Homo sapiens: one gene and its partners. The protein of the gene in region 1 interacts with the protein of each later gene in a pairwise test. Each region holds a gene or a part of one and is shown on either strand. Other genes may lie near its edges. The genes, in order: ZBTB34, RNF4 and PIAS4.

Evidence for each region.
Region 2: the proteins of ZBTB34 (region 1) and RNF4 interact in binary tests that used the Homo sapiens proteins (3 or more experiments, as listed by UniProt).
Region 3: the proteins of ZBTB34 (region 1) and PIAS4 interact in binary tests that used the Homo sapiens proteins (3 or more experiments, as listed by UniProt).

What each region holds. Positions count from the first base shown.
Region 1 is NC_000009.12:126,877,492-126,881,138, forward strand, and holds part of ZBTB34 (zinc finger and BTB domain-containing protein 34), read left to right. Parts: intron 1-1,898; coding exon of another isoform or gene 1,899-1,908; coding exon 1,909-3,423; 3' UTR 3,424-3,647. UniProt on the Homo sapiens protein: May be a transcriptional repressor.
Region 2 is NC_000004.12:2,500,020-2,503,666, forward strand, and holds part of RNF4 (E3 ubiquitin-protein ligase RNF4), read left to right. Parts: intron 1-639; coding exon 640-719; intron 720-3,647. UniProt on the Homo sapiens protein: E3 ubiquitin-protein ligase which binds polysumoylated chains covalently attached to proteins and mediates 'Lys-6'-, 'Lys-11'-, 'Lys-48'- and 'Lys-63'-linked polyubiquitination of those substrates and their subsequent targeting to the proteasome for degradation.
Region 3 is NC_000019.10:4,031,731-4,035,377, forward strand, and holds part of PIAS4 (E3 SUMO-protein ligase PIAS4), read left to right. Parts: intron 1-1,369; coding exon 1,370-1,443; intron 1,444-1,689; coding exon 1,690-1,850; intron 1,851-3,647.

The DNA of each region.
Region 1 (3,647 bases):
TATAATTGTTAGATCTGGTTTTGTTATGTTTCTGTCAGAGGATGGAGCCGGGGCTATATATACTTAAGTAGTTCTGAGCAGTCTGGCGCTGCAGATTTTAGGCCACAGGAAGGAAACCTGTTGTAGGTGTGCCGCAGCTGTGAGCGCTAGTAGAAGGTGATTCCTTTTGATGTGTCCATCACCCTTTCACTCTTGTTGTCTAAAATAACTACTGTTTAAAAACACTGTCTTGGCAGAGCGCGGTGGCTCACGCCTGTTATCTCAGCACTTTGGGAGGCCGTGGCAGGCAGATCACTTGAGGTCAGGAGTTCGAGACCAGCCTGGCTAACATGGTGAAACCCCATCTCTACTGAAAATACAAAAACTAGCTGGGTGTGGTGGTGCACGCCTGTAGTCCAGCTACTCAGGAGGCTGAGGCAGGAGGATCACTTGAACCCAGGAGGCAGATGTTGCAGTGAGCCAAGATCATGCCATTGCACTCCGGACGACAGAGCGAGACTCCATCTGTAAAAATAAAATAAAAATAAATAAAATAAAATATTGTCTAAAATAACTCTTCACTGGTCGGGTGTGGCAGCTCACACTTGCAATCCTAGCACTTTGGGAAGCTGAGGTGGGAGGATCACGAGCTCAGGAGTTCAAGACCAGCCTGGGCAACATAATGAGACCTCATCTCTAATAAAAAATAGTAATAATAGGCCGGTGTGGTGACTCTTGCCTGTAATCCCAGGACTTTGGGAGGCCGAGGGGAGCAGATCACCTGAGGTCAGGAGTTCGAGACCAGCCTGGACAACATGGTGAAATCCCGTCTCTTCTAAAAATACAAAAATTAACTGGGCATGGTAGCGCATGCCTGTAATCCCAGCTATTCAGGAGGCTGAGGCATGAGAATTGCTTGAACCTAGGAGGCGGAGGTTTCAGTGAGCCGAGATCACGCCACTGCACTCCAGCCTGTGCAACAGAGCAAGATTCTGTCTCAAAAAAAAAAAAAAGTAATAATAACTCTTCACTGAAGGAGACTGAGCATGGTAAGTCTCAGCCAAAGCAACCCAACCCAAAAGAGATATAAAGGTGTACAGAGCTGAAGGGCAAACACACAAATCAAGACAATAATACTGAAAAGGGTTTAGCTCCATTTATTGTATCCAGTGTGCTACAGAGTTGAAAAATACCAATCAGAAATACACAAGTAAGGTAGAACATTTTTAGATGAATTTAGTTTTGTTTTTGTTTTGTTTTTTTTTTTTTTTTAGAAGGAGTCTCACTCTGTCCGCTAGGCTGGGATGCAGTGGTGTGCTCTCGGCTCACTGCAACCTCTGCCTTCTGAGGTCAAGCGATTCCCCTGCTGCAGCCTCCCAAGTAGCTGGAATTACAGGTGCACAACACCACACCAGGCTAATTTTTGTATTTTTAGTACAGATGGGGTTTTACCATGTTGGCCAGGTTGGTTTCAAACTCCTGACCTCAAGTGATCCGCCTCCCTCAGCCTCCCAAAGTGCTGGGATTATAGGTGTAAGCCACTGCGCCTGGCCTGAATTTAGTTATTTTTCACAAAGTACTTCAAACCCTCAAAAGTACTTGAAATGGGGAAATATTTTTCCTAAAAGGAGACCAATTTCTCAGTCAGAGCCAAAATAGTCCTACTATGTGTAAAATATTTTACTTTTGATCAAGATGAATATTAGGCAATTATGACATTAGGCTAATTGATCATTAGTTTATTTGGCTTTAGGTGAATTAACCAAAACATGAAAGACTAAAACAAGGGGAAGAATGCTTCAGGTAGATTTTAGGAGGTATGATAGCCACAATGGTATTGTTGTTGTAAGCTTGTGTTTATGCCACTTGTACTTAGTGAGGAGTCATTGGTGAATGATGCAAACTCTCTCTCTCCGCAGAGTACGCTTCATGTCAGTAGAAATGGACAGCAGCAGTTTTATTCAGTTTGATGTGCCCGAGTACAGCAGCACCGTTCTGAGCCAGCTAAACGAACTCCGCCTGCAGGGGAAACTATGTGACATCATTGTACACATTCAGGGTCAGCCATTCCGAGCCCACAAAGCAGTCCTTGCTGCCAGCTCCCCATATTTCCGGGACCATTCAGCGTTAAGTACCATGAGTGGCTTGTCAATATCAGTGATTAAAAATCCCAATGTGTTTGAGCAGTTGCTTTCTTTTTGTTACACTGGAAGAATGTCCTTGCAGCTGAAGGATGTTGTCAGTTTTCTGACTGCAGCCAGCTTTCTTCAGATGCAGTGTGTCATTGACAAGTGCACGCAGATCCTAGAGAGCATCCATTCCAAAATCAGCGTTGGAGATGTTGACTCTGTTACCGTCGGTGCTGAAGAGAATCCCGAGAGTCGAAACGGAGTGAAAGACAGCAGCTTCTTTGCCAACCCAGTGGAGATCTCTCCTCCATATTGCTCTCAGGGACGGCAGCCCACCGCAAGCAGTGACCTCCGGATGGAGACGACCCCCAGCAAAGCTTTGCGCAGCCGCTTACAGGAGGAGGGGCACTCAGACCGCGGGAGCAGTGGGAGCGTTTCTGAATATGAGATTCAGATAGAGGGAGACCATGAGCAAGGAGACCTATTGGTGAGGGAGAGCCAGATCACCGAGGTGAAAGTGAAGATGGAGAAGTCCGACCGGCCCAGCTGTTCCGACAGCTCCTCCCTGGGTGACGATGGGTACCACACCGAGATGGTTGATGGGGAACAAGTTGTGGCAGTGAATGTGGGCTCCTATGGTTCTGTGCTCCAGCACGCATACTCCTATTCCCAAGCAGCCTCACAGCCAACCAATGTATCAGAAGCTTTTGGAAGTTTGAGTAATTCCAGCCCATCCAGGTCCATGCTGAGCTGTTTCCGAGGAGGGCGTGCCCGCCAGAAGCGGGCTTTGTCTGTCCACCTGCACAGTGACCTGCAGGGCCTGGTGCAGGGCTCTGACAGTGAAGCCATGATGAACAACCCCGGGTATGAGAGCAGTCCCCGGGAGAGGAGTGCGAGAGGGCATTGGTACCCGTACAATGAGAGGTTGATCTGTATTTACTGTGGAAAGTCCTTCAACCAGAAAGGAAGCCTTGATAGGCACATGCGACTCCATATGGGAATCACCCCCTTTGTGTGCAAGTTCTGTGGGAAGAAGTACACACGGAAGGACCAACTGGAGTACCACATCCGGGGCCATACAGATGATAAACCATTCCGCTGTGAGATCTGCGGGAAGTGCTTTCCATTCCAAGGTACCCTCAACCAGCACTTGCGGAAAAACCACCCAGGCGTTGCTGAAGTCAGGAGTCGCATTGAGTCCCCCGAGAGAACAGATGTGTACGTGGAACAGAAACTAGAAAATGACGCATCGGCCTCAGAGATGGGCCTAGATTCCCGGATGGAAATTCACACAGTGTCTGATGCTCCCGATTAAGATGGTAAAGAAGTGCACCCAAACAAAGCACATTAATCAATGCATATTTGTGATTTGCTTTGTTGTAATCTTTGGTTTTCCCAACCATCTGGAAATCTCTTGGTCTCTTGGCAGTTTTTCTAAAGTTTCTGGATGGAACACTTCGTTGTGTTTATCCTTTCCCCTGCCCTCCCTCCCCGAAGGAGCTCAAAGCATGAAGGGCAACGCATCCAGGGAAAACACAG
Region 2 (3,647 bases), on another chromosome or scaffold:
TGCTGCCAGGCGCCTGTAATCCCAACTACTCGGGAGGCTGAGACAGAGAATTGCTTGAACCCAGGAGGCGGAGGTTGCAGTGAGCCAAGATCGCACCACTGCACTCCAGCCTTGGCGACAGAGCGAGACTCTGTCTCAAAAAAAAAAAAAAAAAAAAAGAATTTGCCCTAGATTAACCGATGAAGTTACTAAGCTAAGCCTGACTTTTGGTCCTTGGGCCAAGTGAGAGTGGTCAGCTTCACCTGCTGGGAGGAGCAGAGGTTTCAGGCTAGTCCATCCCAAAGAGAAAGGCCTGGGGCTGGGCATGCATGGTGCGTTCTCCCAGATGGGGCACAGAGGCATAGCCGTGTGGAAGTGGGATGCCGTGGAATAGAGGTATGCACATGCGCACACATACATAACCCCCCAGGTACATTTGTAAAAACCATACCTCCCCACTCAGAGCAGAATTCTGGAAGGGTGGTTACTGGCTTTCCCTCCTGAGGGAGGTGTTGGTCCTGGTGCTCTTTGCAGTGTATACTTCAGGATTGTTTTAGTTTGGGGTAAGCCTATAACATTAGCAGTCATACTAAAGTGTAGAGGGATACAACCTTACTTTCCTCTTAATCTTAATGCTTGTTGAAATACTTTCTTTTGAAGCTGGAGATGAAATTGTGGACCTCACTTGTGAATCTTTAGAGCCTGTGGTGGTTGATCTGACTCACAATGACTCTGTTGTGGTAAGTGTTGGAGTGTGAGAGTCGGCTGTTTCTTGGGTATGGGTCCCTGGCCAGTGCCAGCATCTGACAGCCTTGGTCACAGACTCCAAGTCAAGGTTACAGCTTATGCTAAAGAAGTTCATGCATCTTGTGGAATTGAGCTTTTAGAAAGAAAATAAACAGTAACAATAATAATAACAAAGAAGTTCATGCATTCAGTGACGAGAGCCCAAAATGAAAAATGTTTCTGGAAAATCATTTGTTATAGCCTTGTCGCCTATGGAGTAGGTCTGTGTAACCTGACCTTGCCACACCTGGGCACAAAAGTGGTTTGGGGAGAATCTCAAGACCCCCACATCTGTCTTCAGTCCCTGATTCCACAGTTTACACCAGCTGTGTGACCTTGGGCATGTGACTTAGCCTCATTCACTTTCCATGAAATGGGGACAGGTCACTCATGTCAGCAGGGCATGGTGTAAGACATCTTACAACAGATGCCGTGTTTGAGTGCCTGACACCTAGAATGGTGCCCAGTCACTGTGAGTGTATGCCCTCCCAACTGAAAGGAAAGGGAACGTTGGCTCAGCACTGCCCATGGGAAATCTCTCAAGTTCCAAAAGTGCCTGCTACTTAGCATGGCCTCAGGGGATGCAGGCTCCCTGCATTGCCACCTGATGCCTGCTGCGTCCTGATGCCAGGGAGGCTGGAGCCCAGGAGGCTGCCTGTGTCCCTGTCTCATGGCACCGGTTACAGACTGCAGGGGACGTGTGTATACGTGTCCTGCCTGCCAGGAGGGAGGCCTTGTCTGGTCAGAGGACACACGGAGAAGCTATTTCTGATAGACCTGTTTCATGGTGCATGCAGGTCTGGGAATCTGGTCAGCATCTTAAGGGCAAGTTTGCCTCTGGAAGATGCCACTTGAGTGTTTTCTGACAGTGTGCTCGGAACACAGGTCGGGGTGGGGGCACACTTGGCAGCATTGGCAGTGGGGTGGTAAGTGCTGCTGAGGAGGACTGTGGGGTGTGGGGGCTGCTAGTAGCTGAGTCTTCGCCTTGGCCCTGGGCTCACTGGTGTTGGGGTTATCCTGTTTGGCTGATGCCTGGGTATCTGAATAGGGACACCCCATAGGTGTTGCTTCTTAGTTGTGCTGAGAACTTCAGAATAGGGTTATACTGAGAAGTTTCAAGACTTCAATGCAAAGAAAAGGACAGGGATGGAAAACCATCTGAGATAAGCAGCAGTGGGTTTAGTTGTACGTGGTCCCTGCTTAGGTCTCATTAACGTGTTTTCTGAGGTACATACACACATATGACTTTGCTTATCATCCCTGTGTCCTGCATGGAGTTCTGGAAAGATAACTAATTTGGTATATTAGCTGGCAGCTACAGCACAGTCACTGATTTTTCCCCTCTTTCTTTTTCCCAGCTGACACCTTGGTTTCACCAGTTGCTCATTAAAGCTGGAAAGTGGTGTCTGCAGAAGTTTTTTTGTTTTTTGTTTTTTGTTTTTCTTGAATACTCAGTGTTCACCACAGTCTTCTTGGCCTTCTCTCTGCCAGACCCTGAGGAGAGAGCTAGGATTTTGACTGCAGGAAGACAATGATTGATTGGCTTTTGTTGGCTGACAAACCAACATCATTTCCCCTTTCACACTTGTGTTTTCTTTTGCTTTAGAAACAGGGTCTCAGGCTGGGCGCGGTGGCTCACGCCTGTAATCTCAGCACTTTGGGAGGCCGAGGTGGGCGGACCACAAGGTCAGGAGTTTGACATCAGCCTGGCCAACATGGTGAAACCCTGTCTCTACTAAAAATACAAAAATTATGCGGACGCCTGTAGTCCCAGCTATTCAGGAGGCTAAGGCAGGAGAATCGCTTGAACCCAGGAATCAGAGGTTGCAGTGAGCCGAGATCACGTCACTGCACTCCAGCCCGGGCAACAGAGTGAGACTCCATCTCAAAAAAAAAAAAAAATACAAAAATTAGCCAGGTGTGATGATGCATACCTGTAATCCCAGCTACTCGGGAGGCTAAGGCAGGAGAATTACTTGAACCCAGGAGGCGGAGGTTGCAGTGAGCCAAGATCGCGCCACTGCACTCAAGCCTGGGCGACAGAGCAAGACTCTGTCTCAAAAAAAAAAAAAAAGAAAAGAAAAGAAACAGGGTCTCACTCTGTTGCCCAGGCTAGAGAGCAGTGGCATGATCACACCTTACTGCAGCCTCCAACCCCTGAGCTTAAGTGATTCTCCCACATTATCCTCCTGAGTAGCTGAGACTACAGGTGCATGCCACCATACACTACTAAATTTGGGTCGGGTGGTGGTGGTGATTTTTTAATATTTTTGTAGAGACAGGGTCTCACTGTGATGCCCAGGCTGGTCTTGAACTCCTGGGCTCAAGCAGTCACCCACCTCAGCCTCCCAAAGCACTAGGATTACAGGTGTGAGCCACCACACTGGCCAGCTTTGTTTTGTTTTGATGACTAAGCTGCTCTTGCTAAAAGGGCTTCCTCTCTGAACTTCCCTACCTTTCTTCTGTTTCCCTGGGCTAGGGCTCCATGTTGGCAGTCCTACTCCCAATTAACCTGGGGCTGTCTGGTTAACCTTTATAAGATCTGCAGTCATTGGGAGACCCGGGGACCAGGAATATTGGTGTTGAGGGAGCTACCCTGGAAAGTGGATGGGTGGCCAGAGGGAGAGCTGATAGGTAAAAGGGAGACGCTCCTGGCTTGGGAAGCAGGAGTCCTAGGTTCTGGTCTCTCAGATCTACTGGTCAGTTTGATCAGTGGATTTATCTCACACTGTCCTCAGTGTTGTCAGCCACAAAATAACTGCTTTGGACTTGATAGCTCTTGCTAATCATTCTCTACTTATTTTTGATTTTAATAAGTCCAAGTGCCAGTTTATGAATTTACACTGAGACATATACTTGAGTTTGGAATTCTGCCTCTGAGC
Region 3 (3,647 bases), on another chromosome or scaffold:
AGGCTCAGCCTCTCTGTCACTGGATTTCTTTCTTGCTGCACCTAGGAAGTCCTCACCTTTGCCTCACTTGAACCCTTCCTGCTGCGCACGTCTCTCCATACACAAAGGAGGGAGAGTTTGCTTTAAAATCAGATGGGCACCTGCATCCCCTCCTAGCTGCCCCTTTGCCAGGCTTGAGGGTCCACCCGGGCACCGGGTAGCCAGAGCTGGGATCCAAGGATGGAAACTCAGCTGAGGAGTGAGCGGCTGGGGCAGCCTTGGCTCAAGCAGGGGAGCTGCTGGGAGCCAGCACGTGGCTGCCACCACGTCCCCACGGGAGAAGGAAGAGCCCACTGCTCCACACCCCGGCTGGGGGTCTGGGTGGGGGTCAGGAAGGAGGAAGTGGCTCCCAAGCGGGCAGAGATAAGTGGTGTTTCAGGCCAATAAGGGGTGGTAGGGGCATTTCCAGGCGGAGGAACGTCAGGACAGCTGGGGGGAGTGGGGGGGCAGGCTGGCACCATCACTCTGGACCCCAAGTCACTTGGGCAGGTGGCTTCCTGGAGGAAGCAACACTGGTCCACCAGGCAGCTGAGGGCCAGGTGGTGGATGGAGAGGCCCTGTGGGTTGTGGGCCAGGGTGGCCTGCCCCCCATGGCCCAGGGCTGGGGTCTCTCCTGAGCTACCCATGGATGGAGTTTACCCTGGGATGGAGCCACATCCCAGAAGCCTCAGGAGGGCAGCCAGGGTCCCTGCGTGAGTTTCCTTCTGGCTGTGGGCCTGCTGCCCGTCGAGGGGAGGGCGGCGCCTGCCTCCAAGACTTCATGTTTCACATATGTTTCCCCATGTTCCGTGCAGCTTGCTGGCGGGCACCGTCTTTTCCTTTAAAGAAGCAGCTACACTCCTGTCTGCAGGCTGCCTTGGGGCGGTGCTGGGGCTGGGCGGCAGCCGCTTGCTGGCTCACAGCCAGGAAGCCCCAGGATCCGTCTCCCAAAGAGTCCCTGCCTCATTCCCCGCTGTGGCCTTGGGGATGGTGCTTCGGTGACAGAATGAAGTCACAGCAATGACTCTTTCGGTGGCTGTGTTGCATGAAACTTGCCAGAAAAGTCCCATGGGTCATAGTCCACGCAGGGTGGGGGAGGCCACATAGGCCACCTCCGTGTGGGGGCTTCGGCTGGGTCTGTGCTGTGCCCAGGTTGTGGTCAAATCTAATGGTGGTTGCCACCCGGCTTTCTCCAATCCCTCACGGCCCCGAGCCACACAGCGAAGCTTGGGACTCATCGTCAGGGGCCTGTTCTGGGAGGTGGACGTCAGTGCCGGAGAGAACTCGAATCACAGCCCCGCGCCCTGCTGTTCCCACCCTCCTGACGGTGTCTTCCGTTCCCTCCCCACAGTCAAGGAGAAGCTGCGCCTTGATCCTGACAGCGAGATCGCCACCACCGGTGTGCGGGTGTCCCTCATCTGTCCGGTGAGTCGGGGCGCGGTCCCCTCCTCGAGGCCTCTCCTGCGGCCGGCCTTCCCCCCTGGCGGCCCTGGGCCCGGGGCGGCTTGGCTGGGCCGTGAGCCTGCGGGGGCGAGGCTGGTCTTCGTCCCCTCCGTGTTCCTGAGGCATGAGTGATTGGAGCGAGCCACAGGATGGAGCTGGGGGTGAGGGGCACCGGGCAGGCGGGCACAACAGGAGGGGTGCCCTGCTCACGCAGCCCCTCCCCCACAGCTGGTGAAGATGCGGCTCTCCGTGCCCTGCCGGGCAGAGACCTGTGCCCACCTGCAGTGCTTCGACGCCGTCTTCTACCTGCAGATGAACGAGAAGAAGCCCACCTGGATGTGCCCCGTGTGCGACAAGCCAGCCCCCTACGACCAGCTCATCATCGACGGGTGAGCCCGGGGCCCCGGGGAGGGCGGCCGGAGCCGGACATCCGTGGAGGTCTCGGTGGCACCCCGCTTCCTGCAGACCACATGGTGCCCCAGCAAGACACAGCAGTGGGGGCACATGGTCCTGGAGCTTTGGAAACCCCGGGCTGCGAAAAGAGCCGGTTTCTTTCTCGCGGAACTTCTCAGAGCCTTTGCTATGCAGGTGACAGCCACGTAGCTTAGGTTGCAGAAGGTGGGCTCCGGTCCACCCCGCTCCCACGTGACCTCAGGCAAGTGTGACCCTGAGCTCCAGGAGTGTGGTTTGTGCCACAAAAAACTGAGCCAGGTCGTGCTTTCACACGGCGTTCACCCCAGGACGCGCAGCCTTGGGGGTGACCTCCTCACAGAAAGGCAAAGGAGGTGGCGCCTCCTGGAGCACTCTGGCTACGCCATGCCCTTCCCTTCCTAGGTGGCACAGCTGTGGCCAGGCATTCCCCAGGCCACAGGGGACAGGAGGACAAGACCTTTCTCCCTGGTGGAAGGCTCTGCCCAGGGCTTAAGTTTCCAGAAACTGAGCCCCGTTGTCTGTGGTGCCTGATGCGGCTCCTGCCCGGCGCCGACCGCGCCCACCTCGTCCCCAGAGCCGCCGGCAGGGCGCGAGGCCACAGCGGCACAAGCTGGCGCCCTCACAGGCGGGAGCAGGCCCTGCCTGTGGGGGTGGGCCGGGTCCCCAGCCCTCAGGCATGGCCTCAGCGGACTGTGCAGGTGAAGGCAGGGCTGGCCTGCCTCTGGGGTTGTAGATTTCATCCCCAGGTGGACCTCCGGTTCATGCACTTGTCCCCATCCCAGGAGACAGACCTGTGAGCGTCCTCAGTTTACAGACGAGGAAACAGGCTCAGAGGAGGCAACCAGCAGCTGGAGCTACCCCGGCTCACGGGGCCAGGCTGAGACTTGAACCCAGCCTGAGTCTGGGTCCCCTCTGTGGAGGGCTGGGTGGCCACCCCCTTGCATCCCAGCTTCGGGTAGAGAGAGGAGTCCTTTGGGCCGGGCACGTGGGCTGCCTGAATGGCTGCTCTGTTCCCAGCCTGACAGCTGTGCAGCCGGGTGCCCGCCTTCCCCCACAGGCCCGGAGTGGGGCTTGGGCTTGGGGTGGCGGCAGCTCTCACAGCTCCAGGGCCACCAGGGCTGGGGCAGGCAGCTGTGTCCCATGCAGGCCTTGGCCTCAGCAGCCCATGGGACTCGGTGTAGCCAGGGAGGCTTCCTGGAGGAGGGGTCCTTGGTTCATACTTTGTTCCATGAGCCCTATCACCTCTCTGTCCCTGGCTCTGAGCTGGGTGACCCCAGGGTCCCCAAAAGAGCCCCGTCCCAGACCCTGCCTTCAGAGTCTTGTTCTTGGCCAGGGGAGCGGATAGAGGAGCAGAGCCAGACATAAACGTTCCCGTTGCTGTGTGTGTCTTGGGGAGGAGGAAGAGAAGCTGTGGGGTGGGGCTTTGGAGGGTGAAAAGCAGTTTTGCAAGCAGGGAAGTGGGCAGGCAGGGCTGTGCTACGCCTGGGGCGGCCCTGGCACGGTGGGCTCCGAGCATCGCCTCAGAGAGAGCTCGGCGGGGCGGAGGGGCTGGCCTGGGTGAGAGCCTCAGAAAGGGTGGCCCAGAGTGGGACGAGGGCTCTCCTGTGTGATGAGAACGATGCCACTGCGGGTGCCTGGGAGCAGCTGTAGCCTTGACAGTAACAGGCCAGCCTGGGCCCTGCATGGACCCGTGGGGCAGGGGGCCTCTCCTCAGACGCCCCCCAGCCACTGCACCTTTCCCTTCCTGCGGGTGG